Homo sapiens: one gene and its partners. The protein of the gene in region 1 interacts with the protein of each later gene in a pairwise test. Each region holds a gene or a part of one and is shown in the gene's direction. Other genes may lie near its edges. The genes, in order: ATRIP, FAM156B and SCG2.

Region 1 (3,750 bases):
TGTTACCTCTAGTGGAGTGTGAAGGTAGGTTATGGAGCTGGGGTTGGGGAGTGTCACGTCTCTCTGGGTCCCTGTCTTTTAGGTTCCAGTGTGTGTTCCAAGTGCTGCCAAAGTGCCTCAGCCCAGAGACACCCCTGCCTAGCGTGCTGCTGGCTGTTGAGCTCCTCTCCCTGCTGGCGGACCACGACCAGCTGGCACCTCAGCTCTGTTCCCACTCAGGTAAAGCAGGGTGGGGCGGGCGTCTAGACTGCTCCTGCAGATCAAGGGAAGGGTTGGGGTGGGAACAGGGTCAAGGGCCTCAGAGGGCTTCTGCAGTATGTAGCCCACGCTCTTTATGAGAAAGGGCACCCTGAGTGAGAGGTGCGCTGTCCTTTTCAGAAGGCTGCCTCCTGCTGCTGCTGTACATGTACATCACATCACGGCCTGACAGAGTGGCCTTGGAGACACAATGGCTCCAGCTGGAACAAGAGGTAAAAACTCCAGAGCCCCTTCTGGACACTGTCCCCACCCCATCCTAAGAACCAACAGAATCTCCTTTCTTTCCGCTGAGGAGAAACGGAGCTTTAATTCATTTTAGTAACAAGAGTTGATAAAGCAACTAAAGAGGTAAACTCAGTTTGGGGGCTGTGCACCACACAGATGCAATGCAGACAGGACTTGGCAGAGTTGCCTGATGACTGATCCTGTCTTGGCTTTGGGACGTGGGGGCAGAATAGGGGGCTGGAGGCAGGTGGGTTGCTGGTGACACATGAGTGCTTGTCCTGGGTCTTCCCTGGGAAGGTCCCACACCACTTCTTGGACCCCATTTGTGCAGACAAACAGTTGCTGAAGCAAGTGAACTCTTATAGAAGCTTAAGAAAACCCTCGCAGGGACTGGTCTCCTTCTGCCCAGGATGGAACCAATCTGTTCTTGTTCTAGGTGGTGTGGCTCCTGGCTAAGCTTGGTGTGCAGAGCCCCTTGCCCCCAGTCACTGGCTCCAACTGCCAGTGTAATGTGGAGGTGAGTGGGTAGGGGCCAACAGCTGGCAGCTCTGGTGGTAAGGGGGCCCCGTGCAAGGACTGTAGGCCCCACTGCAAACCCCCTCACGTGAGGTGGCTAGGCTGAGCGGATTGTTAGGGTGCAGGCCATGGTGGCACCAGGCCTCAGTCTGCACCCCCCCTCTCTCAGGTGGTCAGAGCGCTCACGGTGATGTTGCACAGACAGTGGCTGACAGTGCGGAGGGCAGGGGGACCCCCAAGGACCGACCAGCAGAGGCGGACAGTGCGCTGTCTGCGGGACACGGTGCTGCTGCTGCACGGCCTATCGCAGAAGGACAAGCTCTTCATGATGCACTGCGTGGAGGTCCTGCATCAGTTTGACCAGGTGATGCCGGGGGTCAGCATGCTCATCCGAGGGCTTCCTGATGTGACGGACTGTGAAGGTAAGCCTGCCAGAGGCCATCCTGCCCAGCCCCCATGGCTTCTTCCAGAGGTTCCCCAACAAGTCAGATTCCTGGGTGTCCCCTCAGCAGGCCCCCGCCCACTGCAGCCTGTTCCAGCACTGGGGCCATTTTCTTTTATCTTCCTGCCTCAGTTCTTCTCCAAGCATATTGGGATGCCTTTTGCATCTATCTGTTGAGTGTGCCTGGCAGAGCCACGGTTTTTCCAGAAATAGCCGTGTCTGAATTGCCTTTGTATCACTTTGTTTGCAGTAGCTGAGGGAGCAGGGCCTGGGTGTGGAAGGGACTGGTTAGTTCCTGCGGACGTTGGGGGAGGAGAGGTGGGACCTGCCCTAGGCCCTGGCACCTTTGGGCCCTCACCAGGAACCTCTCCTTTTTGTCTCAGAGGCAGCCCTGGATGACCTCTGTGCCGCGGAAACCGATGTGGAAGACCCCGAGGTGGAGTGTGGCTGAGGCCCTGAGTGTCCAGCCACATGGTGGCACCAGCACCACTCCTTTCCTTACCACATCAACTGATTAAAGCAGTGACCAGCAGGAACTGCCCAGAGAACTGGCTGGCCTTGTTTCCTGAGTCTGATCTGTTTGGCGGAGTGGGAGGGGTGGAGCAGGACCCGGACCCTGAGTGGCTGGGATCCTTCTTCCTGTCCCTGGCTGTTGCTGAGCCCGTCCCCATGGTAACTGATCTGCCTTGAGGAAGGAGCCCTGCCCTGCCTGTGGAATTGTCCTGAGTCATTGCTTTGGGCTGGGGCCATGGGAAGAAACCATTGTGTGGCAGGGAAGGAGGTGGCTCTTGGCCCAGGCCTAAACCAGGAAAGCCTGGGAAACTGGGACCCACAGGTGGGCATGAAAGGGCCGCAGCAGGGGCTCCCAGCAGTGTGTAAGACCGGGAGCTGGTCTGGCACCACTGCCCTGGTCCTTCCAGCTGCCTGTCACTGGTATGATGGCCCCGGTGCATTGTGCCACCAGCAGGCCACAGCTGTGGATCTTGGAAGGCCTCTGGGGTCCCCCGGGAGCAGGGGAGTGGGTGTGGGGGGGAACGGATGGTGGTGAGAGGGACAGACCAGGCAGGCTGACGAGCAGGGCGGGCCTGGCTCACGTGGGCCTGTAGGCGGGCCCACGCCAAGTTTCACTTCCCGCCACTGCTGCCAGCGAGAGCCGCGGGAGAGTGTGCAGCCGAGTCACTACTGCCTGCCTGCCTGCCTGCTACGGTGAGTGTGGCCCCCACAATGGGATGGCGCAGGGCAGGAGGGCCATGGGTTCCCCCACCCCAGACTAAGGGGGCACTAGGGGAGGGGCCGAGTCATGTGAAGAGGGAGACCCTCTCAGACAGTCGAATGTGCTGGTCCCACTAAGGAAACCACCTCACCCTCTCCAACTTCCTGCCTGAAAATGGGCCCTGGAGCTCGCAGACAGGGCAGGATTGTGCAGGGAAGGCCTGAGATGTGCTTCTGCCCACCCCCTACCCCACTCCCTCCCCTTCGGATCTTAACACTGGGCACTCACACACCCACCCCATGCTCCTCTCCAGGCTCAGCAGCAGGTACGTACCCAACCATGGGCTCGCAGGCCCTGCCCCCGGGGCCCATGCAGACCCTCATCTTTTTCGACATGGAGGCCACTGGCTTGCCCTTCTCCCAGCCCAAGGTCACGGAGCTGTGCCTGCTGGCTGTCCACAGATGTGCCCTGGAGAGCCCCCCCACCTCTCAGGGGCCACCTCCCACAGTTCCTCCACCACCGCGTGTGGTAGACAAGCTCTCCCTGTGTGTGGCTCCGGGGAAGGCCTGCAGCCCTGCAGCCAGCGAGATCACAGGTCTGAGCACAGCTGTGCTGGCAGCGCATGGGCGTCAATGTTTTGATGACAACCTGGCCAACCTGCTCCTAGCCTTCCTGCGGCGCCAGCCACAGCCCTGGTGCCTGGTGGCACACAATGGTGACCGCTACGACTTCCCCCTGCTCCAAGCAGAGCTGGCTATGCTGGGCCTCACCAGTGCTCTGGATGGTGCCTTCTGTGTGGATAGCATCACTGCGCTGAAGGCCCTGGAGCGAGCAAGCAGCCCCTCAGAACACGGCCCAAGGAAGAGCTATAGCCTAGGCAGCATCTACACTCGCCTGTATGGGCAGTCCCCTCCAGACTCGCACACGGCTGAGGGTGATGTCCTGGCCCTGCTCAGCATCTGTCAGTGGAGACCACAGGCCCTGCTGCGGTGGGTGGATGCTCACGCCAGGCCTTTCGGCACCATCAGGCCCATGTATGGGGTCACAGCCTCTGCTAGGACCAAGCCAAGACCATCTGCTGTCACAACCACTGCAC
Region 2 (3,750 bases), on another chromosome or scaffold:
ATGAAGTCACAGACACCTGGATTTAAATCGAGACTCCACCATTTATTTCTTGTACGACTTTGGGGAGGTTACTTAATCTCTTTGTGGCTCAGTTACTTCATTTGTAAAATGAAATGATAATATTCTGGGAGAATGGTTCATGTTTCCTTCCTTCATAAACTGCTGTTCACGAGGCGGCTTCTTCCAGGGTTAAAAAGGAATCTACTATCCATGTATCTGCTAGGACAGACATTGTTGCGTGTCACTTGACTCCTGAAATACGCCACGGTAAAGAAATCTCTGTACACTTTCGTGTTCTGGGAAGTCACTGACCACACAGGACCAATTATTCTCCATGAGACTTAGATAAGGGATGCTGTCTTCCCACTCTGTGCCGTGACTCCCAGATGGCAGACACCACCAGTCCTTGTTCTTTTGTCTCATGAATGTGTTGTAACCAAGCGAGTTATAGAGAAACGCCACACTTTTGAGACAAATTAAGGGGACCTTTATTAGCTGGCGACCTACAGGCAGCTAACGCTCAAAATTCTCTCGGCCCCAAGGAAGGGGCTAGTTTTGTTTTTATACCGTGGTCTAAACAGGGGAGGGGGGAGTTTAGCTGAAGCAATTTTACAGAAGCAGAATAGGCAAAAAGTTAAAAAAAATTAATTGGTTATAGAAGCAGTTACAAAAAATAAACAGTTCCAGGTGCAGGGGCTTAAACTATGATTAAGAGATAAATGCAGGGGCTTTTAGGTACCTTCCACCGAGCACATTCCCGAGCTGTTGGTACAGCCTGCCTCAATATCTTACCAGCAGGTGTATTCTTGGATGTGCTTGGACTCAGCTTGCACTAGTTATTCCCTTAAGGGGGATAAAGGGGGCTGCAAGTGAAGAAACTAAAATGGAGTCTGTCCGGCTCTCTCTGCTAGGAAAGAGTCACTCAGGTTAAAACAAGGTAGGGTATCACAAATGATTCACTTAGACGGGAAGTCTGTCCTCCTAAAAGTAGCTAGGCACAGAGAGAAACATTCCCTGTTCAGCTGGCTGAGACTTCCGCTGATTAAAAAAAAAACAAAAAACCCTGCCCCATAAATCTCCCCACTGAAACCGGTGTACTCCTTCCTATGAAAGTAAAAGACACCCCCGCCCCGCCCCGGTTACCCCAACAGTGTGATTTCCACTTCTGGGGCGCTCTCCCTAAGGCAGTAGCCTGAATAATTTCAATGTATTGGATTGTTTGGTTTCTGTCTTTACCAAGGTGCATTTATCATTCATGCAAAAACAGTAAAAAAAAAAAAAAAAAAAAAAAAAAAAATGAAACAGCACGTGTCGGTTCTCAGCGGCGCGCCCTAGCTCAAAACTCCAGCCAATCACAGGAGAAGTCGGCCGCCTCCCAACCCTCCAGCCCAGTTCCCACGTCCCTCGCCCGGGAAGTCACGTCCGCTACAGGGAGTGTCTTCCCATGGCCTCCGGAAGCATTCGGCAGTCCACAAGCCACGCTTCAGAGAAGCCGCTCCGGGAACGCCGCGGCGCACCTCCGGAAGGGATGACCTCCACGCCTTCTCCCCTCGCAGTCCACCCGAGCGGCGTGGGTCGCGAGAAGCCACCCAACCGCTCCGTCTTCCGGCTCCGGCGGTCCGCGGCAGCCAATCAAAGGTTCAGTTTCTCAGCGGCGTCGCATCCCTGTGACGTGAGCACATCCTCGCCGGCGCCCCCTTCCGCGCTGCGGCGCCTCTAGCCCGCCGGAGGGCGGCTCCTCTCGATGGTCTTAACCCTTCAATTACGAGCGGGCGGCGCTGCGTTTCCAGGGCAGAGGAAACGAGGCGCCGCGTTGGCGCTTGGACGGCGGGAACCGGCTCCGGAGCGAGAACGCGCGTGAGAGAGCCCGAGAGAGACGGAGAGCGAGCGAGCGCGCGGGAGAGACTGAGAGCGGGGGGGTGGGAGAGAGACTTCCAGAGAGACAGAGCGAGAGGCCGAGACGGAGGCTGTCCCTAGCACAGGCCAGGGTGTCTTGGGACTCGAATCCCTGGGTTGGGCTGGCCGGGAGTGGGGCTTTCGAAGGAAGCGGGTGATTTTCCACGTCGTCCATATCTCCCCGGTGTGGGAATGGCGGTCGTGCACTCTGGGGGTGGCGTTGTTCTCGTTCCCTACTTGGGGGTGGCCTTTTTCAGCGGAGAAAGAGGATGCCGCGGGCATTGGTAGCCGGCGGGACTACACTTGGGCTAGGATCAGTGTTCAGCGGGTTCAGAAATCACCGTGTCCTTGGCATCACCTCCCTCCCCACCTCCTCTCCCATCGCACAGCAGGAGACAGTGACTGGAGGGTTTTCAAGGAGGACTGCATTGCCCCTATTGAAACAAACCGTCCGACAAACCCTTTCTCCGACGTGTGACAGAGGGACGGTCGTAATGTGAAATACGACTAGACATGCGTTTAATGGGCGGTGTGATTGCTGCATTCGTGCGCAATGAATGGTCCAGGCCATTTGTGTCCAGTAGCCGCACAAGCTGCAGGGTCTCATGTTTAGAGAGGGAGGGCCTCTCCGCCGTCCACCTTGCTGGAGTACAGGCGACCCTGGGCGGTAGCCCTCTCCGCCATCAGAAATGTGGTGCTCTGAGTAGCCACAGATTCCCATCTGCATCTCCAATACCATTTCCCTCTACTCACTGACCCGTTGGGTGCGTTGGATTTGTGCGTGGGTGTGAGGGTAGTTTGGTGTGTTTGCTTGCAAATGGAAAAGCGAATGGCCTTGGTTGGCTGAGCTTATCAGGGCACTAGCAGTGGAGAGAGAAAGGACTACTGTATTCTTAGGAGCAGAATCTCAACAACTTCCTATAAAACGGGCAGTGTGTCTTACCTGGAATGCTTTGGCATTTAATAAAATGTCCTGTGAATACTTTTCATAGGGAAGCACTTTGTTTTTACTGTTTCTGGTTGGACAGTGGTTACATTTCAAATCGTAGTTCAGAATTCGTGAAATACCCAAATTAAATCTCTACGTGGCAGTAATCCATTTTCTTTCCTTGGTGTGTGGTTGGAAGATTAATTTGAGATAAGTGTTCAGTTCTGGGCTGGGCAGTCGTGCCGGGCACGGGAAATTCAGGTTCTTTAAGGGAAAGGCCTGATGTGCTAAGACGAAATCTATACCGTGTGTAGCCGCTTATGAGAATATGAAACTAAGGAGAGCCACAGGTAAGTATACGTCTATGAATGCGAATTAAAACGGGTGACAATATAAAGAGAGATTGGTGTCACAAATGGTGGAGTGACTTTTGTATTTCAGCAGACCTCAGTGAGAAATGGTCACCACCACTCCCTAGATGTGTGACCTTGAGTGAGTTGCTTAACCTCTCTGATCCTGTTACCTCATCTGCAACTGGGGATGAGAATATATATCATAGCATGCCCTGGGAGAAGCTGTTCCTGACCACCTGGGCTATGGTGATTTTGACTTCCTCTGTGTCAGAAGTACCCCCGTCTCATGCCTGCCATAGTTGTCTTTTTGTTTTGTTTTGTGATTTCAGATGGACTCACCCTGTCACCCAGGTTGGACTGCACTGGCCTCAACCTCCTGAGTTCAAGTGATCGTCCCACCTCAGCCTCCCCAGTAGCTGGGACCATAGCTGTGCAGCATCATGCCTGGCTAATTTTTTAAGTTTTTTGTTGAGATGGTGGTCTCGCCCTGTTGCTCAGGCTGGCCTCAAACTCCTGGGCTGAAGCAGTCCTCCCACCTCAGCCTCCCAAAGTGCTTGGATTAGAGGCGTGAGC
Region 3 (3,072 bases), on another chromosome or scaffold:
AATTTTTAAAAAGAGTTATCCTAAGCTTAATGTGAAATAATATCTACTATGTTTTTTCCTCACCTCAATGATCAATTATTTCTTTTGCTATAGTGTCTTCTAGTTTGTTTCATTTGTGTAACTCATATTTTTTATGTTTTAAGGAAATCTTTCAAACATGGCTGAAGCAAAGACCCACTGGCTTGGAGCAGCCCTGTCTCTTATCCCTTTAATTTTCCTCATCTCTGGGGCTGAAGCAGCTTCATTTCAGAGAAACCAGCTGCTTCAGAAAGAACCAGACCTCAGGTTGGAAAATGTCCAAAAGTTTCCCAGTCCTGAAATGATCAGGGCTTTGGAGTACATAGAAAACCTCCGACAACAAGCTCATAAGGAAGAAAGCAGCCCAGATTATAATCCCTACCAAGGTGTCTCTGTCCCCCTTCAGCAAAAAGAAAATGGCGATGAAAGCCACTTGCCCGAGAGGGATTCACTGAGTGAAGAAGACTGGATGAGAATAATACTCGAAGCTTTGAGACAGGCTGAAAATGAGCCTCAGTCTGCACCAAAAGAAAATAAGCCCTATGCCTTGAATTCAGAAAAGAACTTTCCAATGGACATGAGTGATGATTATGAGACACAGCAGTGGCCAGAAAGAAAGCTTAAGCACATGCAATTCCCTCCTATGTATGAAGAGAATTCCAGGGATAACCCCTTTAAACGCACAAATGAAATAGTGGAGGAACAATATACTCCTCAAAGCCTTGCTACATTGGAATCTGTCTTCCAAGAGCTGGGGAAACTGACAGGACCAAACAACCAGAAACGTGAGAGGATGGATGAGGAGCAAAAACTTTATACGGATGATGAAGATGATATCTACAAGGCTAATAACATTGCCTATGAAGATGTGGTCGGGGGAGAAGACTGGAACCCAGTAGAGGAGAAAATAGAGAGTCAAACCCAGGAAGAGGTGAGAGACAGCAAAGAGAATATAGAAAAAAATGAACAAATCAACGATGAGATGAAACGCTCAGGGCAGCTTGGCATCCAGGAAGAAGATCTTCGGAAAGAGAGTAAAGACCAACTCTCAGATGATGTCTCCAAAGTAATTGCCTATTTGAAAAGGTTAGTAAATGCTGCAGGAAGTGGGAGGTTACAGAATGGGCAAAATGGGGAAAGGGCCACCAGGCTTTTTGAGAAACCTCTTGATTCTCAGTCTATTTATCAGCTGATTGAAATCTCAAGGAATTTACAGATACCCCCAGAAGACTTAATTGAGATGCTCAAAACTGGGGAGAAGCCGAATGGATCAGTGGAACCGGAGCGGGAGCTTGACCTTCCTGTTGACCTAGATGACATCTCAGAGGCTGACTTAGACCATCCAGACCTGTTCCAAAATAGGATGCTCTCCAAGAGTGGCTACCCTAAAACACCTGGTCGTGCTGGGACTGAGGCCCTACCAGACGGGCTCAGTGTTGAGGATATTTTAAATCTTTTAGGGATGGAGAGTGCAGCAAATCAGAAAACGTCGTATTTTCCCAATCCATATAACCAGGAGAAAGTTCTGCCAAGGCTCCCTTATGGTGCTGGAAGATCTAGATCGAACCAGCTTCCCAAAGCTGCCTGGATTCCACATGTTGAAAACAGACAGATGGCATATGAAAACCTGAACGACAAGGATCAAGAATTAGGTGAGTACTTGGCCAGGATGCTAGTTAAATACCCTGAGATCATTAATTCAAACCAAGTGAAGCGAGTTCCTGGTCAAGGCTCATCTGAAGATGACCTGCAGGAAGAGGAACAAATTGAGCAGGCCATCAAAGAGCATTTGAATCAAGGCAGCTCTCAGGAGACTGACAAGCTGGCCCCGGTGAGCAAAAGGTTCCCTGTGGGGCCCCCGAAGAATGATGATACCCCAAATAGGCAGTACTGGGATGAAGATCTGTTAATGAAAGTGCTGGAATACCTCAACCAAGAAAAGGCAGAAAAGGGAAGGGAGCATATTGCTAAGAGAGCAATGGAAAATATGTAAGCTGCTTTCATTAATTACCCTACTTTCATTCCTCCCACCCCAAGCAAATCCCAACATTTCTCTTCAGTGTGTTGACTTCTATCCTGTTAACACTGTAATATCTTTAAATGATGTACAGGCAGATGAAACCAGGTCACTGGGGAGTCTGCTTCATTTCCTCTGAGCTGTTATCTTGTGTATGGATATGTGTAAATGTTATGACTCCTTGATAAAAAATTTATTATGTCCATTATTCAAGAAAGATATCTATGACTGTGTTTAATAGTATATCTAATGGCTGTGGCATTGTTGATGCTCACATATGATAAAAAAGTGTCCTATAATTCTATTGAAAGTTTTTAATATTTATTGAATTATTTTGTTACTGTCTGTAGTGTTTTGTGGAGTACTGGACCAAAAAAATAAAGCATTATAAATATATAGTTTTATTTATAAGGCCTTTTCTATTGTGTGTTTTACTGTTGATTAATAAATGTTATTTCTGGACAACTTTGGACTCTTAATTATGGAAAACCAGAGACAATGTCTACGAAGCAAGCAGTATGAAGCCAAAAGAGAAAATCATCTTCACCAGACAATTCAGGTAAGAAGTAATGAATTTTATACATGTGTTCATGGTACCTGCTTGCAGAATGCTGCATCCTTATGCTTGCCCATGGTTTTCCTTATGCTTGCCCATGGTTTTCCTCAAATATATAATCGATAGAGTCTTTGTTTTAGGTATTTTTTACTCTTGATTTATATAAGTAAAAGAAATTTAAGTCTCCAATACCCATAGGCAGCCATCAAAACAAAAACAGAAAGAAAAAGAAAAGGCTGCATAGATGGCAATCAAAAATGACTACAGACTTGAAAGGAACTTGTCTATTCCCAGGTCATGTTGGTCCCCAAAAGACAAGGCTGTTGCCTCCCTTATGTGACTTGAGAGGGGCCAAAGGACCCCCAAACTGACCATTAGGTAAGTGAAGAAGCACAGTAGCAGTGGGAACAACCAGCCCCATCTTCTGCCCTAGTGGGCAAAGAAGTGCATGGTTATTACAGCGCACATCACTTTAGTGCAA

The links.
Region 2: the proteins of ATRIP (region 1) and FAM156B interact in binary tests that used the Homo sapiens proteins (3 or more experiments, as listed by UniProt).
Region 3: the proteins of ATRIP (region 1) and SCG2 interact in binary tests that used the Homo sapiens proteins (3 or more experiments, as listed by UniProt).

The regions. Positions count from the first base shown.
Region 1 is NC_000003.12:48,463,663-48,467,412, forward strand, and holds part of ATRIP (ATR-interacting protein), read left to right. Parts: intron 1-82; coding exon 83-219; intron 220-378; coding exon 379-470; intron 471-919; coding exon 920-1,000; intron 1,001-1,168; coding exon 1,169-1,421; intron 1,422-1,824; coding exon 1,825-1,892; 3' UTR 1,893-2,993; coding exon of another isoform or gene 2,994-3,750. Other genes in the region: TREX1 (three-prime repair exonuclease 1), read left to right, coding at 2,994-3,750. UniProt on the Homo sapiens protein: Required for checkpoint signaling after DNA damage. Required for ATR expression, possibly by stabilizing the protein.
Region 2 is NC_000023.11:52,895,553-52,899,302, forward strand, and holds the start of FAM156B (protein FAM156A/FAM156B), read left to right. Parts: upstream 1-1,777; 5' UTR 1,778-3,750.
Region 3 is NC_000002.12:223,596,368-223,599,439, reverse strand, and holds the end of SCG2 (secretogranin-2 precursor), read left to right. Parts: intron 1-143; 5' UTR 144-157; coding exon 158-2,011; 3' UTR 2,012-2,500; downstream 2,501-3,072. UniProt on the Homo sapiens protein: Neuroendocrine protein of the granin family that regulates the biogenesis of secretory granules.